Homo sapiens: one gene and its partner. The protein of the gene in region 1 interacts with the protein of each later gene in a biochemical or structural test. Each region holds a gene or a part of one and is shown in the gene's direction. Other genes may lie near its edges.

Evidence for each region. Proteins that work in one complex are often made in the same cells at the same time.
Region 2: the proteins of LGALS8 (region 1) and ITGA3 form a complex in vitro, tested with the Homo sapiens proteins (one study listed by BioGRID).

Annotation. Positions count from the first base shown.
Region 1 is NC_000001.11:236,526,923-236,534,037, forward strand, and holds part of LGALS8 (galectin-8), read left to right. Parts: intron 1-7,115.
Region 2 is NC_000017.11:50,073,110-50,080,109, forward strand, and holds part of ITGA3 (integrin alpha-3 preproprotein), read left to right. Parts: intron 1-806; coding exon 807-895; intron 896-1,034; coding exon 1,035-1,171; intron 1,172-1,338; coding exon 1,339-1,425; intron 1,426-2,349; coding exon 2,350-2,417; intron 2,418-2,489; coding exon 2,490-2,626; intron 2,627-3,216; coding exon 3,217-3,366; intron 3,367-3,474; coding exon 3,475-3,572; intron 3,573-3,864; coding exon 3,865-4,012; intron 4,013-4,269; coding exon 4,270-4,338; intron 4,339-4,895; coding exon of another isoform or gene 4,896-4,936; coding exon 4,937-5,016; intron 5,017-5,097; coding exon 5,098-5,175; intron 5,176-5,714; coding exon 5,715-5,817; intron 5,818-5,966; coding exon 5,967-6,149; intron 6,150-6,325; coding exon 6,326-6,448; intron 6,449-7,000.

The DNA of each region.
Region 1 (7,115 bases):
TTAATGTCATTGTGTAAGAATGAGGTATCGCTGCTGTATCAAGCAAAGTCAGTTTTAGGAGAAATAGCCTTTCAGTGGTAGTAAGTTTAAAAAAGATGACTTCCTGAAGCGGAAGCTTGTGAGACATTTAAGATGACTTTGCGCATGTTAGAGTTAAAAACATCCCAAGGTTGTAAACTGATTTCCTGCAAAGATCTTAACAACAACAACAACAACAAACTAGGCTGCCTGCCACGGGTGTCTGAAGTATCATCTTGGCTCAAGCTGGGAGAATGGATAAAGGTTACACTGTTCATTTCTGCCCTTCACACAGAAAAGAAGATAATTTTATAGGTAAAATTCGTGCATATCTTGATTCTAGCATACTGCTGATTCCTGTAGTTTCTGGGGTCAGTACTCTCAACTATTGAGGTGGAACAAAAATAAGTAGACTTCATTTCTTGAGGAAGGGGATCTGGAGAAGTAGTTCTGCGCTAGAGCAGAAAATGCCTTCAGTCTTGTGGCATGGGCTGGATGCTGTTCTGAGGATAATGCATTTCCAAGGGAGATATTTTTGGCAAATAGCTTTTTTTTCTTTCTTTTCAAAATTCTCTGTTTTATTATCAGTTCTCACAAAAGAGTCGGAAAGGTTAGAGGTAGACTGAACTGAATGGCAAAAACATTTTGCGCTCTCTTTACGTTTCACTGCTGTAAAATATTTATAGTATAAAGGGCCTGTATTGCACTGAATTTCTCTCATTTGTAGCTAGTTGCCCTTTCAATGTTCCAAAAAAAAAGGCTGTAAATAACTTATTTTATTTATTCAATTAATTTTTTTTTTTTAATTTTTTGAGATATAGTTTCCCTCTGGTCACCCAGGCTGGAGTGAAATGATGCAATCTCGGCTTACTGCAATTTCTGCCTCCCGGGTTCAAGCAATTCTAGTGCCTCAGCCTCCTGAGTAGCTGGGACTGCAGGCACGTGCTACCATGCCCGGCTAATTTTTGTGTTTTTAGTAGATATGGGGTTTCACAGTGTTGGCCAGCCTAGTCTCAAACTCCTGACCTCAGGTGATGTGCCCACCTTGACCTCCAAAAGTGCTGGGATTACAGGCGTGAGGCACCATGCCTGGCCAACTTAGTTATTTAAAGATAATCAATTAGTATATTTTATAAGCTAGACTTAGGAAAACGGTTTTCAGCTGGGCATGGTGGCTCACACCTGTAATCCCAGCACTTTGGGAGGCCGAGGCAGGTGGATCACGAGGTCAGGAGTTCAAGACCAGCCTGGCCAAGATGGCGAAACTCCGTCTCTACTTAAAAATACAAAAATTAGCCAGGCGTGATGGCAGCCTCCTGTAATCCCAGCTACTCGGGAGGCTGAGGCAAGAGAATCACTTGAACCTGGGAGGCGGAGGTTGCAGTGAGCCGAGATGGTGCCACTGCACTCCAGCCTGGGTGACAGAGCGAGACTCCATCTCAAAAAAAAAAAAACCCCCCCACACACAAAACCTGTTTTCTTGAATCATGGTTGTTTTGTTACTGATAGGTTCAATAAGTAAATATATTTATTGTCTGTTGTATTCTTTATTAGGCATTATAAACACACCGCCACTTTTTAATTTTTATTTCATTAATGTTTCCAATTTTTTTTTTTTTTTTTTTTTTTAAGACAGAGGCTCGCTCTGTCATCCAGGCTGGAGTGGAGTGGTGCAGTCTTACCCCACTGCAACCTCCACCTCCTGGGCTCAGCCTTGTAAATAGCTGGGACTACAGGCATGCACCACCATGCCTGGCTAATTTTTGTATTTTTTTTGGTAAAGACAGAGTTTTGCCATGTTTCTCAGTCTGGTCAAGCACTCCTCCCGCCTCGGCCTCCCAAAGTGTTGGGATTACAGGCATGAGCCACCATGCCTGGCCTATTTCTAATATTTTGGTCCACATTGGTGTTAGACCAACTGTCCACATTAAGTTTTCTTGGAAAAGATGAAGTAAATATTGCAACTGGCCTATGTATTTTTTTCCCTATTTAGTATATTTCTTTGACTAGTTCAACTGATAGAATTCCAAGACTTAAAAAAGTCAGGCTCTAAGGCTGGGTCCAGAGGCTCATGCCTGTAATTCCAGCACTGTGGGAGGCCAAGGCTAGTGGATCACTTGAGCCCAGGAGTTCAAGACCAGCTTGAGCAACATAGTGAGACCTTGTCTCTCTATAAAAATACAAAAATTAACTGGGGATTGTGGCGCATGTCTGTAGTCCCAGCTATGAGGAAGAGTGAGGTGGGAGGATTGCTTGAGCCCAGGAGGTTGAGGCTGCAGTGAGCTGTGAGTTTGACACTGTGCTTCATTCTGGGTGACAGAGCAAGAACCATGTTCAAAAATAAAAATAAAAAGTCAGAGTCCGGGTGCTGCGGCTCATGCCTGTAATCCCAGCACTTTGGGAAGCCGAGGCGAGAGGATCACTTGAGGTCAGGAGTTCGAGACCAGCCTGACTAACACAGTGAAACCCCGTCTCTACTAAAAATACAAAAATTAGCCGGGCATGGTGGCGGTGGCCTGTAATCCCAGCTACATGGGAGGTTGAGGCAGGAGAATCACTTGAACCCGGGAGGTGGAGGTTGTAATGAGCCAAGATTGCACAACTGCACTGCATCCTGGGCGACAGAGTGATACTTCATCTCAAAAAAAAAAAAAGAAAAAAAAAGTTAGGCTTCCTTTTCTGTTTTTTTTTTTTTTTCTTTCTTCTCTTTTTTTTTTTTTTTTTAAGAGATGGAGGCTTGCTCTATTGCCCATGCTGGAGTGCAGTGGTGCAATCTCGGCTCACTGCCACCTTTGCCTCCTGGGTTCTAGCAATTCTCCTGCCTCAGCCTCCCGAGTAGCTGGGACTACAGGCGCACACCGCCACGCCCCGCTAATTGTTCTTTTGTATTTTAGTAGAGACGGGGTTTCACCATGTTGGCCAGCCTGGTCTCGAACTCCTGAGCTCAGGCAATCCGCCCGCCTCGGCCTCCCAAAGTGCTAGGATTATAGGCGTGAACCACCGTGGCTGGCCACTTACTTTTCTTTCTATTGAATTTGAATGAATAATTTGGAAGACAGTATCTTTACTTCATACCAGGAATGCTGCCAGTGAAATTTCTTGTTTGGCAGTTCATTATCTACCTATATATTTAATTTTGCTATTGTTTATAGAGTTCTTAAGATATGATTAAATGCTAGCTGGTTAAGAAATCATTTAGAAATGAAACAGAATTGGTTGTTACTCCAAGTTAATAAGTTGCTTGTCAACATAAATCCTACCTGGTACCCAGTTTTCTTAGGAACCTTGCTTCCATGTTTATCCTTTTCTGCTTAGTATTCTAAGTACTCCTTTTTTACCTTACAATTTAGTCTTAAAACACAACACAGTCAAGTCTTTCTTTTGTAACCTGTGAGATACCTTCTAGCCTTTGTGCTGTTTTTCTTCTCTTTTTGCTGCCTGCCTTCCTGACTGAGAGTGGATTTCCTCACTAAGGCTCTGCCCTCTGATTTTTCACTCTCTTTTCTTTTTTGGTTTTACTAGTGAAATTTTGTCTTTAATGTCTCTTTCTTTTATGTCTTTACCGATCACTCATAGATTTTTTTTTCCATATGTATCCAGTTCCAACCTTTCACCTAATGTGAACCCCCAACTCTCAGTTGCTCAGCCAGCCCTTCAAGACTAGGAGTTCAAAACCAAACTTGCATCTTCCTTCCCAAACCAGCTTTCCTCTTGCAGTTTTCTGCAGCAGGATCCTTCTGCTGTTTAACTTTTGCCTCCTCCCTTGTTTCCTAGCACCCAATAGTTGGAAGATAGTCTGTCTTCAAAATTTTAAACTACATTTATGTCCAAACCAGTGGCTTTTCCTTTTAAAAAAATTTAAAGATAATATGTGCAAATCATTTTTTTAAAATTCAAACAGTATTTAAGAGTTTCAGTGAAACATGCATTTTCCTTCTACCCTGGTACTTAGTTTTACTCCCCAAGGGCAATCACTTTTTACTGGTTTTTAGAAATATATCCTTCCTGAGATACTTATGAATATCCAAAAGTGTGTGTGTTGTGTATATCACCTTTTATATATCCTGTCTCTTTACGTGCATGCATTTTACCGTATAAACTGTTTTCTACCCTGCTTTTTCTATTTGACCTATTTTGGAAATGTCATTTTATTTAGAACTTCCTCATTTATTTTAACAGCTGCATAATTAGCAGTAAAACTTATGTAAGCAGTCCCTTGTGAAGGGCTGTGTCTTTTTGCGATTATATCCGGTGCTATAGTGTACATCCTTGTGTGTGCATCTTGGTGTGCCTGTGCTACGTATTTCTGTAGGATAAATCTGTAAAAGTGGAATCACTAGGTCAGAGGGTATGATCCATTTTCTTTACTTATTTATTTTATTTATTTATTCATTTATTTTTGAGACAGAGTCTTGCTCTGTCGCCCAGGCTGGAGTGCAGTGGCATGATCTTGGCTTACTGCAAGCTCCGCCTCCCGGGTTCACACCATTCTCCTGCCTCAGCCTCCGGAGTAGCTGGGACTACAGGCGCCCGCCACCCACGCCTGGCTAATTTTTTTGTATTTTTAGTAGAGACGGGGTTTCACCATGTTAGCCAGGATGGTCTCGATCTCCTGACCTTGTGATCCACCCATCTCAGCCTCCCAAAGTGCTGGGATTACAGGTGTGAGCCACCGCGCCCGGCCCCATTTTATTATCTTTATTTGCTTGGATCCTTCTTAGCTTCTTCAATGTTAAAGATATTGACAGTTTTCCTCTTACTGAAATTTATAAATCCATTGACTCCCTTGATATTATTGCCCTGGCCTGACTGATTCTTCTCTCTCCTTTCTCTTCTCACCCCATGTTGAGGTCCCCAAGGTCACACCCAGTTTTGATGACTCACCAGCATAGAGTTGTACTTGTGCCTATGATTTATTGCGGTGAAAGGATATAGAGCAAAATTGCAAACGGAAAGGCACCTGGGGTGAATTCCAGGGGAAATCCAGTGCAAGTTCCAAGGTCGCCTCCCAGTGGAGTCACATAGGATGTGCTTACATCCTCCAGCAAGGAGTTGTGACAACACTTGTGAAATGTGGACTGCCAGGGAAGCTCATCAGAGCCTCAGTGCCTAGGGTTTTTACTGGAGGCTGGTCACATAAGCACCCTCACACATATCAAAAAATTCTGGTCCCCCAGAAGGAAAGCAGGTGTTTAGCATAACCATATTATTTGCATGAACAGTTCAGGTACAGGAAATCCCCGTTACCAGTTAGGTTGGTGGGTGCCCTTCCCAAATCCCAAGTTCCCAGACACCAGCCAGGGGCCTGCCTCGTAAGGAGGCCTTTCCAGGACAGCAGTCAGGCCTGCCAATGTTAATTCTTTTCTGCATACCTCCTAATTTTAGAAACCACCGAGCCTTTGCTGCCTGACCTGTCCTGCTTTTCGATTTCTTTATCTACTTTGATATCTTTACAAATGATCTTTACCCTGACTTTTAAATGTGTGCTCTGGCCATTCACCTAGCGTGTGGTTCTGAGTCTCCAAGTCTTAGCAGATTTGCTCTCAGATGCTCTGCCAACGCTTCACACCAAGTATTACAAACTAAACTCGTCATCTTCCTCCTGAAACCTGTCTCCCAGGCCAGGCGCGGTGGCTCACACCTGTAATCCCAGTACTTTGGGAGGCCGAGGTGGGTGGATCACCTGAGGTCAGGAGTTCGAGACCAGCCTGGCCAACTTGGTAAAACCCCATCTCTACGAAAAATACAAAAAAATTAGCCAGGCGTGGTGGCAGGCACCTGTAATCCCAGCTATTCAGGAGGCTGAGGCAGGAGAATCGCTTGAACCCGGGAGGCGGAGATTGCAGTAAGCCGAGATCACGCCATTGCACTCCAGCCTGGGCAACAAAAGTGAAACTCCATCTCAAGAAAAACAAAAAACAAAAAACAAAAAACCTGTTTTCTCCCCAGCTTTGTCATGTATTTAGTGGCCTTATGTAGACAGTTTCCTTTGAAACATCTCTTGGACTTCTCTGCTCTTCCAGGGCCATTGCCACTGACCTGGAATGTGTCCTTATCGTTTCACGCCAGGCTTATGGCAGCAGTCAGTCACCCAGATGACCTCCTGACCTCTGGCTTATTTCACCCCCACTGGACTGTTGTTCCTAAACACTTCTTTCGTATGTCACTCTAAAATCTGACCCTGGCTGTACCTTTCTTTAACTACTCCCTGACTGCGTGCTGAGAGAAGATGGGTCTTGTCTTTTCCTGCCTCTCTGCTTTTGTAAACTGCCATTTCTACCTGAAGTGGCAACTGAAATCATATCTTCTTCATAAACTGTCTTTGGCTACCTCAGTTAGAATTCCTTATCCCATTTTCCTGAAGCATTTCTTTGACTCTTCTTTACTGCTCCCCCACCCTTTTTTTTTTCTTTGAGACTGAATTTTGCTTGTTGCCCAGGCTGGAGTGCAATGGCCCGATCTCGGCTCATTGCAACCTCCGCCTCCTGGGTTCAAGTGATTCTCCTGCCTCAGCCTCCTGAGTAGCTGGGATTACAGTCATGTGCCACCATGCCCGGCTAATTTTGTATTTTTAGTAGAGATGGGGTTTCTCCACGTTGGTCAGGCTGGTCTTCAACTCCCAACCTCAAGTGATCTGCCCACCTTCGCCTCCCAAAATGCTGGGATTACAGGTGTTAGCCACTGCGCCTGACCCCCATTTTTTTTTTTTTTAAAGATGTTGAATTGGTCAGGGTTTGTAGTTACAAGCAACAGAAGCCAACTCTTTAAGCAGAAAAGGAATTTGCTAAATGATAGTGCAGAGTTCTCAGAATCTCTAGCAGGATGAAGAACCAGGCTTGGAGAATAGGTAGCCACAGATACACAAGCATACTGTAGGACGGTTCCCATGAAGAGGCATCTGTTGTCACCACTGGACACAGATGGTACTGTGTCTCTGCTACTCTACCAATGCCACTGCTGTCTCTGACCCCAGATGTAGCTCCCTCTGACCCTGGATGCAGCTCCCTCTGACCCTCGATATAGCTGCCCCTGACCCCGGATGTAGCTGCCTTTGACCCCAGATGTAGCTTTCTCCAAACCCAGATATAGCGGCTGCC
Region 2 (7,000 bases), on another chromosome or scaffold:
GGCCTTACTAACAAGCTTGGCTTGCTGATTCCCTAGGCCTTATCTGATCCAAAGCTGCAAACTGGAAAGAGTTCAGTTTAAGAAGATAACCAAATACTTGGGGGTTATTTGTGGAGATAATGATTAGAATGTAAAAAGCCTTGACACTTTCAGTGAAGTTCACTGTAGTGTTGTGGTTAAAATCCCAGCCCCTGCTGTGAGACAGCCCTGGGCTCAAATTTTCTCTTTTCTACACTCATTAGTTGTACAACTCTGGGTTTTTGGAGTGTCTCCTCATCTATAAAGTGGGGGGATAATAGTACCCACCCCACAGCACTCTCGTGAAAATTAAATGAATAGCTGGGTGTGTTGGTGTGTGCCTGTCCCAGCTACTTGGGAGGCTGAGGTGGGAGGATCCCTTCAGTCCAGGAGGTTGAGGCTGCAGTGAGCTATGACTGTGCCACTGCACTCCAGCCTGGGTCACAGAGCGAGACACTGTCTATAAACACACACACACACACACACACACACACACACACACACACGCACACACGCACACACACTGAATGCTTGACAACTGTCTGGTAGAGTCACTTGTCATCTCCTGAACCTACTTTCCCACCCGTGATAGGAGGAAGCTGGGCTCCAGATGGTCCCAGTGTTCATCCTGAGCTGCAGAGCTCTGCTCTGTCCCTGATGCTCTGAGCCCTGCCCATCAATCAGGCCAAGATCAGTTCTGTGCTGGGCTGTATGGCCTGGAGCAAAGAGTTAGGGAGACGTGGGGCCCAGAGTACCTGGGTGACCCTGTCTTGCCTTTTCTTCTGCAGATATTGCTGTGGGAGCTCCGTTTGAAGGCTTGGGCAAAGTGTACATCTATCACAGTAGCTCTAAGGGGCTCCTTAGACAGCCCCAGCAGGTACAGAGAGACGGGGATGGGTCTGCTGCCCCCACCAGCCGAGATGGGCCTTCCTTGCTTTCCTTCACCCAACCCTTCCCTGTAGCCCCCTGGGCCCTGCTCCCCAGAGCCTGCCCCCACCACTTTCCCCTGCCCCCAGGTAATCCATGGAGAGAAGCTGGGACTGCCTGGGTTGGCCACCTTCGGCTATTCCCTCAGTGGGCAGATGGATGTGGATGAGAACTTCTACCCAGACCTTCTAGTGGGAAGCCTGTCAGACCACATTGTGCTGCTGCGGTGAGCCAGGAGGCCAGTGAATAAGGGTCTTTCTCTTCTTCATCTTTGTCTGCACAGATTCCCATCTGTGTCCATGTTTGCGCTAGCTCCTTGGAAGCCTGGGCCCCAACTCTGGCCTGGGGCAGGCAGGAGGCACTGATATCTGTCTGGCTCTGTTGTCTCTGCAGGGCCCGGCCCGTCATCAACATCGTCCACAAGACCTTGGTGCCCAGGCCAGCTGTGCTGGACCCTGCACTTTGCACGGCCACCTCTTGGTGAGATTGTTCTGCCCACCTACTCCTCATTTATTTATAGGGAGGCTAGGAGGGGCTGCAGCTCCCAAACCCCTCCCCTGGCCTCCTGACATCCCACCTTTAGAAATTTGATTCTTGGGGCCAGCATTTGCCCTCTCTACCCAACCTCATTAAAAAGCAAAATTCCTTGTAAGAGGTAATGGATGAAGTCGGGGGCAGTAGAGTATAGTGGTTCAAGGTGGGAGCTCTGGACGGCCTGGTTCAAATCCCAGCTATGCCAGTGCAGGGGTGGGGATGGGCTCTGGAAAGGGGGACGCATTTAAGTGGATGGATATGGAGGAGAGTCTCCTCAGGTGAATTATTAATCCCTCTTAGGCTCAGATTTCTTGCTTGTAGAACAGAATTGATAATAACTGATTCACAGGGTTGTTGTGATAATTAAATGAGAAAATATACAGAAAGTCCTTAGCACAGCACTGTGTATACCCTAAGTGCTCAAAAAATGTTAGTTGCTAAGAAAGTGACAGTAATGATGGCGATGACCCCAAGGTCTTTAAGTGAATGAGGATTTTGGATCAGAAGACAAAGGCAGACAGAGCAGGGAAATGGGGTGGTTGGTGCAAGGAGACCTGGACTGGGGATTGGCCGACCTAGGTTCAAGACTGGGCTGGGCCACCAACTGACTGAGGACTTCAGACAAGTCCTTCTGGGCCCTAGGCCTCAGTTTCCCCATTAGTGACCTCTAACCCTGTTCTCTTTGGCTTTAAGGGGAGTGGAAGGGAAGGGGTCAGGGACACCACAGACCTGCTTTGTGGACTCCCCAGTTTTGTCCCTGCCTCTCTCCAGAAGGGCCTCGGTTTCCTTTTGCCCAGTACAGAGGCGAGAGCTAGGGCCTGGACGTGTGTGTCCCACTGTGACCCGCCCTCCTGTACATCCCTCCAACAGTGTGCAAGTGGAGCTGTGCTTTGCTTACAACCAGAGTGCCGGGAACCCCAACTACAGGCGAAACATCAGTGAGTGCTGGGGTGCAGCGTAAAAGGGGTACGCTCCCCTGTCCCCTTGCTGACCACCCTGTCTACCTGTAGCCCTGGCCTACACTCTGGAGGCTGACAGGGACCGCCGGCCGCCCCGGCTCCGCTTTGCCGGCAGTGAGTCCGCTGTCTTCCACGGCTTCTTCTCCATGCCCGAGATGCGCTGCCAGAAGCTGGAGCTGCTCCTGATGGTGAGGGAGGAGCAAGGGTCAGGATGAGGGCTCCCAGGTCCCTGGAGGAGGTGGCCAGTGTCCCCCTAGATCAAGGGTGAGGGACGGGGGTCTCCCCAGAGACAGAGGTTGGGGACATCGGTTTGGAAGGCTATTGGTGTGTAGGAGTACAGTGTACAGCACCCACACATGAGGAGTGATGGAGACCCTTGGGGTGGGGATGGGGCCAAAGGGCTTATTACCTCCAAGGAAAGTGAGGAGTGTGGGAGCTCTTGGCTCAGCCCACCTCTGGGAAAAGGGGTCCCTGAGTAGGGAGCAAGGTCAGTCCCTCTCTGGGACATCAGGGTGGAAGGGGAGAGCTCAACCTGGAGACCCTGTGGATGGGGAGGTGAAGGGACTTTTGAGGAGGAGAAGCCCTGTCTCTCCTCTTGGAGGGTCAGGATAGTAGGAAGTCGCAATTTGGCGACCGGACTGGAGGGAGTTCAGCCTAACTGTCAGGTTTTCAGGGTGGGGGGCGGGTCCAGCTCTTCTCTGGGGTTCAGGGTGGTGTGAGGATTCAGCTGGGGCAGGGAGCAGTGCAGGGCCGGGCTCAGCTCACCCTCTCTCCCCAGGACAACCTCCGTGACAAACTCCGCCCCATCATCATCTCCATGAACTACTCTTTACCTTTGCGGATGCCCGATCGCCCCCGGCTGGGGCTGCGGTCCCTGGACGCCTACCCGATCCTCAACCAGGCACAGGCTCTGGAGAACCACACTGAGGTGAGTGGGGCTGGCGCCTGGACTGGAAGACCAGGGGCCAGAAGGGCGGTGGGGCGAGAGGGCACTGGGGGGGGTGGTGCGGCCTTCACACCTCCGGCCACCCCCCAGGTCCAGTTCCAGAAGGAGTGCGGGCCTGACAACAAGTGTGAGAGCAACTTGCAGATGCGGGCAGCCTTCGTGTCAGAGCAGCAGCAGAAGCTGAGCAGGTGGCTGTGGGCCGCCGGCCGCGTTAATCGGCCAAGGGTGGGACGGGGCCTCATTAACTGGCAGGGTGGGGGCGGGGCCTCATGGCAAGGCGAGCCCAGGGACAGGGCTTTAGCGGGAACAGGTGGGATGGTCAGAAACGGGGCTTTCTCCTCCAGGTGCGACTAGAGGACGGGGCCTGGCTGTCCCAAGATGGGCTTTTCTCACCTAGGAGACCCCAGGGGCGGGGCCTAGTTGATCCGGGAGTGCCCTGGGGGCGGGGCTCTTGGCTGAGTCCTGGGCTCCTGCTCTCAGGCTCCAGTACAGCAGAGACGTCCGGAAATTGCTCCTGAGCATCAACGTGACGAACACCCGGACCTCGGAGCGCTCCGGGGAGGACGCCCACGAGGCGCTGCTCACCCTGGTGGTGCCTCCCGCCCTGCTGCTGTCCTCAGTGCGCCCCGTGAGTGCCCGCCGGCCGGCTCAGAGCCCAAGCAGGGCTCCCCGCGTCTTTGCATCCCCATATCCATGTCCTGTGCAGGTGTTGTCGTCTGCCACGTGCCCACCTCCTCTGGTCTGGGCCTTCTTGGGGGCCTTAGCGTCTCTGCTGCTTGGAGAATCCGGCTCTCAAGCTCTAGGGCTTCTGACCTTGCACCACAGAGGAGGGAGGACAAGCCCTACTTTGACCCGACCCTGACCTTATTCGCCTTCTTTCCTCAGCCCGGGGCCTGCCAAGCTAATGAGACCATCTTTTGCGAGCTGGGGAACCCCTTCAAACGGAACCAGAGGGTGAGCACCGGCCACATCCTCCCAGTCCTCCTGGGTCCCTGGCTGCACCTCTGATGAGCTCCTTGTCCTTCCAGCCTCTGCCTGCCTGCTTTCTGGGCTCCCTCGAAGTGGAGAGCCACAGTGCGGGAGGAGAGACTCAGTAGAGGGTGAGAAGAGGCCCAGAAACTAAGACAAATGGGGCTGCTAGGGAGCTGTGCACAAAGCTAGAGCAGGTGGAGGGGAGGAAACCAGTTTGACCAAGCACCAACTGTGTGCCAGCCCCTGAGCCCAACACTGTGCTTCTTTGATATGATATAATTCTCACAGCCTTCTGAGGAGGTAGATGCTCTTTTACAGAAGAGGAAACACACACTTAGAAAGTTTCAGTTACCTGCTCAAGGTTATGTAGCTCAAAAGTAGCAGAGATGTGACCTGATGGAGAGAAAGGGGGAAAGGGAGGCAGAGGTGGGGTGGGGAGGTAGAGACCCCTCACCCAGAATAGGAGGAGGAGGAGAAGGCCAGAAAGCCAACTAGAATAGTGTGCATCCCCTCCTTCCCCATGACATCACCCCCGCCAGGCCCCATATGCCACTCTCTGCCTCCCTGACCCTTGTGGCAGATGGAGCTGCTCATCGCCTTTGAGGTCATCGGGGTGACCCTGCACACAAGGGACCTTCAGGTGCAGCTGCAGCTCTCCACGTGAGTGACCTCGAAAAGCCAGTCTGGGTCAGGGCTGAGGTATCTTGGATCACCTTCCTAACCCCTGCATTTCCTCCCAAGGTCGAGTCACCAGGACAACCTGTGGCCCATGATCCTCACTCTGCTGGTGGACTATACACTCCAGACCTCGCTTAGCATGTGGGTACCGCTCTCCACCACCCCCACCCCAGCCTGCTGTGCCTAAGCTAGGGTTCCCTATCCCCAAGCTATCTCCCAAACTCCTCTGACCCCTCTCTTGGCCCAGTGTCCTCAGGCCTCCACTTTCCCTGGATCATCCTTTTCTTAACAACAACAATCACTATCGTTACCGTTACTATTCCCCCTGTAAAGCAGGCAGAAATGGAGGAATCAGCAACCCCGGGGCTAAGGTGTTGTCCCTACCATTTTATAAGAGCTCATTGTGCTAAGGATTTTATATACATCATCTCAATGACTTCTCACAGCAGCCCTGTGATACAACAGCTATGATTAAGTCCATTTTACAGATGAGGAGACTGAGGCTCAGAGAGGATAAATAGCTTGCTTGAGTCCATAAAGCTTGTAAATGCAGAGCTGAGGTTTCTATTGAGGTGACTGATGTCAGAGGGGCTATAGTTAGCCAGCTTTGGTGCCCACCCCCCTCTGCCAGGGCCCTGGTCTCTTGTCCCCCGTGACTCCAGCATCCTTCTTACCCCTAGGGTAAATCACCGGCTACAAAGCTTCTTTGGGGGGACAGTGATGGGTGAGTCTGGCATGAAAACTGTGGAGGATGTAGGAAGCCCCCTCAAGTATGAATTCCAGGTAAGGGGCTCGCCAGAGTCCTGGGCTGGGGACTTCTAGGAAGGATTATTTTTATTTTCTCTGGGGTCTGAAGGTGGGAGGGTTGGGGGTTGGTAAGATGGAGGTGGTTTTCCAGGAGATAATGACTATGACACATCTTGTGCCCACAGGTGGGCCCAATGGGGGAGGGGCTGGTGGGCCTGGGGACCCTGGTCCTAGGTCTGGAGTGGCCCTACGAAGTCAGCAATGGCAAGTGGCTGCTGTATCCCACGGAGATCACCGTCCATGGCAATGGGTCCTGGCCCTGCCGACCACCTGGAGACCTTATCAACCCTCTCAACCTCACTCTTTCTGTAAGGACACTATCAGGGATATTTCATTTGCATGCTACAGGGCAGAAAGGCCAGTGTCTTCCCCTCCCTCCCCTCATACCCCTTTGGCAAGCTGTCTCTCCTACCCTTTCCTTTCCTGCAACCCTGCTCCCAATTCTTCCTCTGCCCTGCCAGCAAATCTCCTATTTCCTCTCCAGGACCCTGGGGACAGGCCATCATCCCCACAGCGCAGGCGGCGACAGCTGGATCCAGGGGGAGGCCAGGGCCCCCCACCTGTCACTCTGGCTGCTGCCAAAAAAGCCAAGTCTGAGACTGTGCTGGTGAGTGGCCAGGGCGAGGTTGGAGGGGATTGCATCCACCCCATCACAGGGTGCCTGGGCACCAGGGGCACACAAAGCAAGGGAGACCTCAGTGTGATGAGGTGATGAGGCCCCTGCTCTTGGGAGCCTCCAGACAGAGCAGGGAGCCTCATCTCCTGCCCTCAGAGGGTTCTCCACTCTGATGGGGGAGGATTGAAGACAAGGGACCAAAGGAGGAGGCACTGGCTCTGCTCCAAGGAACCCCAGCCTGTTGGGGGCGATAGAGCTGCTCAGAGCTTTGGCCGGCAGGAGGCGGTGTCGGGCAGGGCAATGGTGGGTGGTGCGTGTGCCCTCTGCAGGAAAGGAGAGGAGAGCGGGCCTGGCAAGCCGGTTGAAGCCTAGCTGGGTGGAGAGTGGGAGGTGGTGTCCCAGGGGCAGGGAGCTGGCTGGGAAGCAGGTGTAGGCGGTTGGGCCCTGTTTACACAAGCAGGGGCCAGATTCCATGTTATCCATGTGCCTGGCATTATATGAGCTTGGCCCAAAGAGTGTGTCTGAAATGCATAGCTGTGAGGT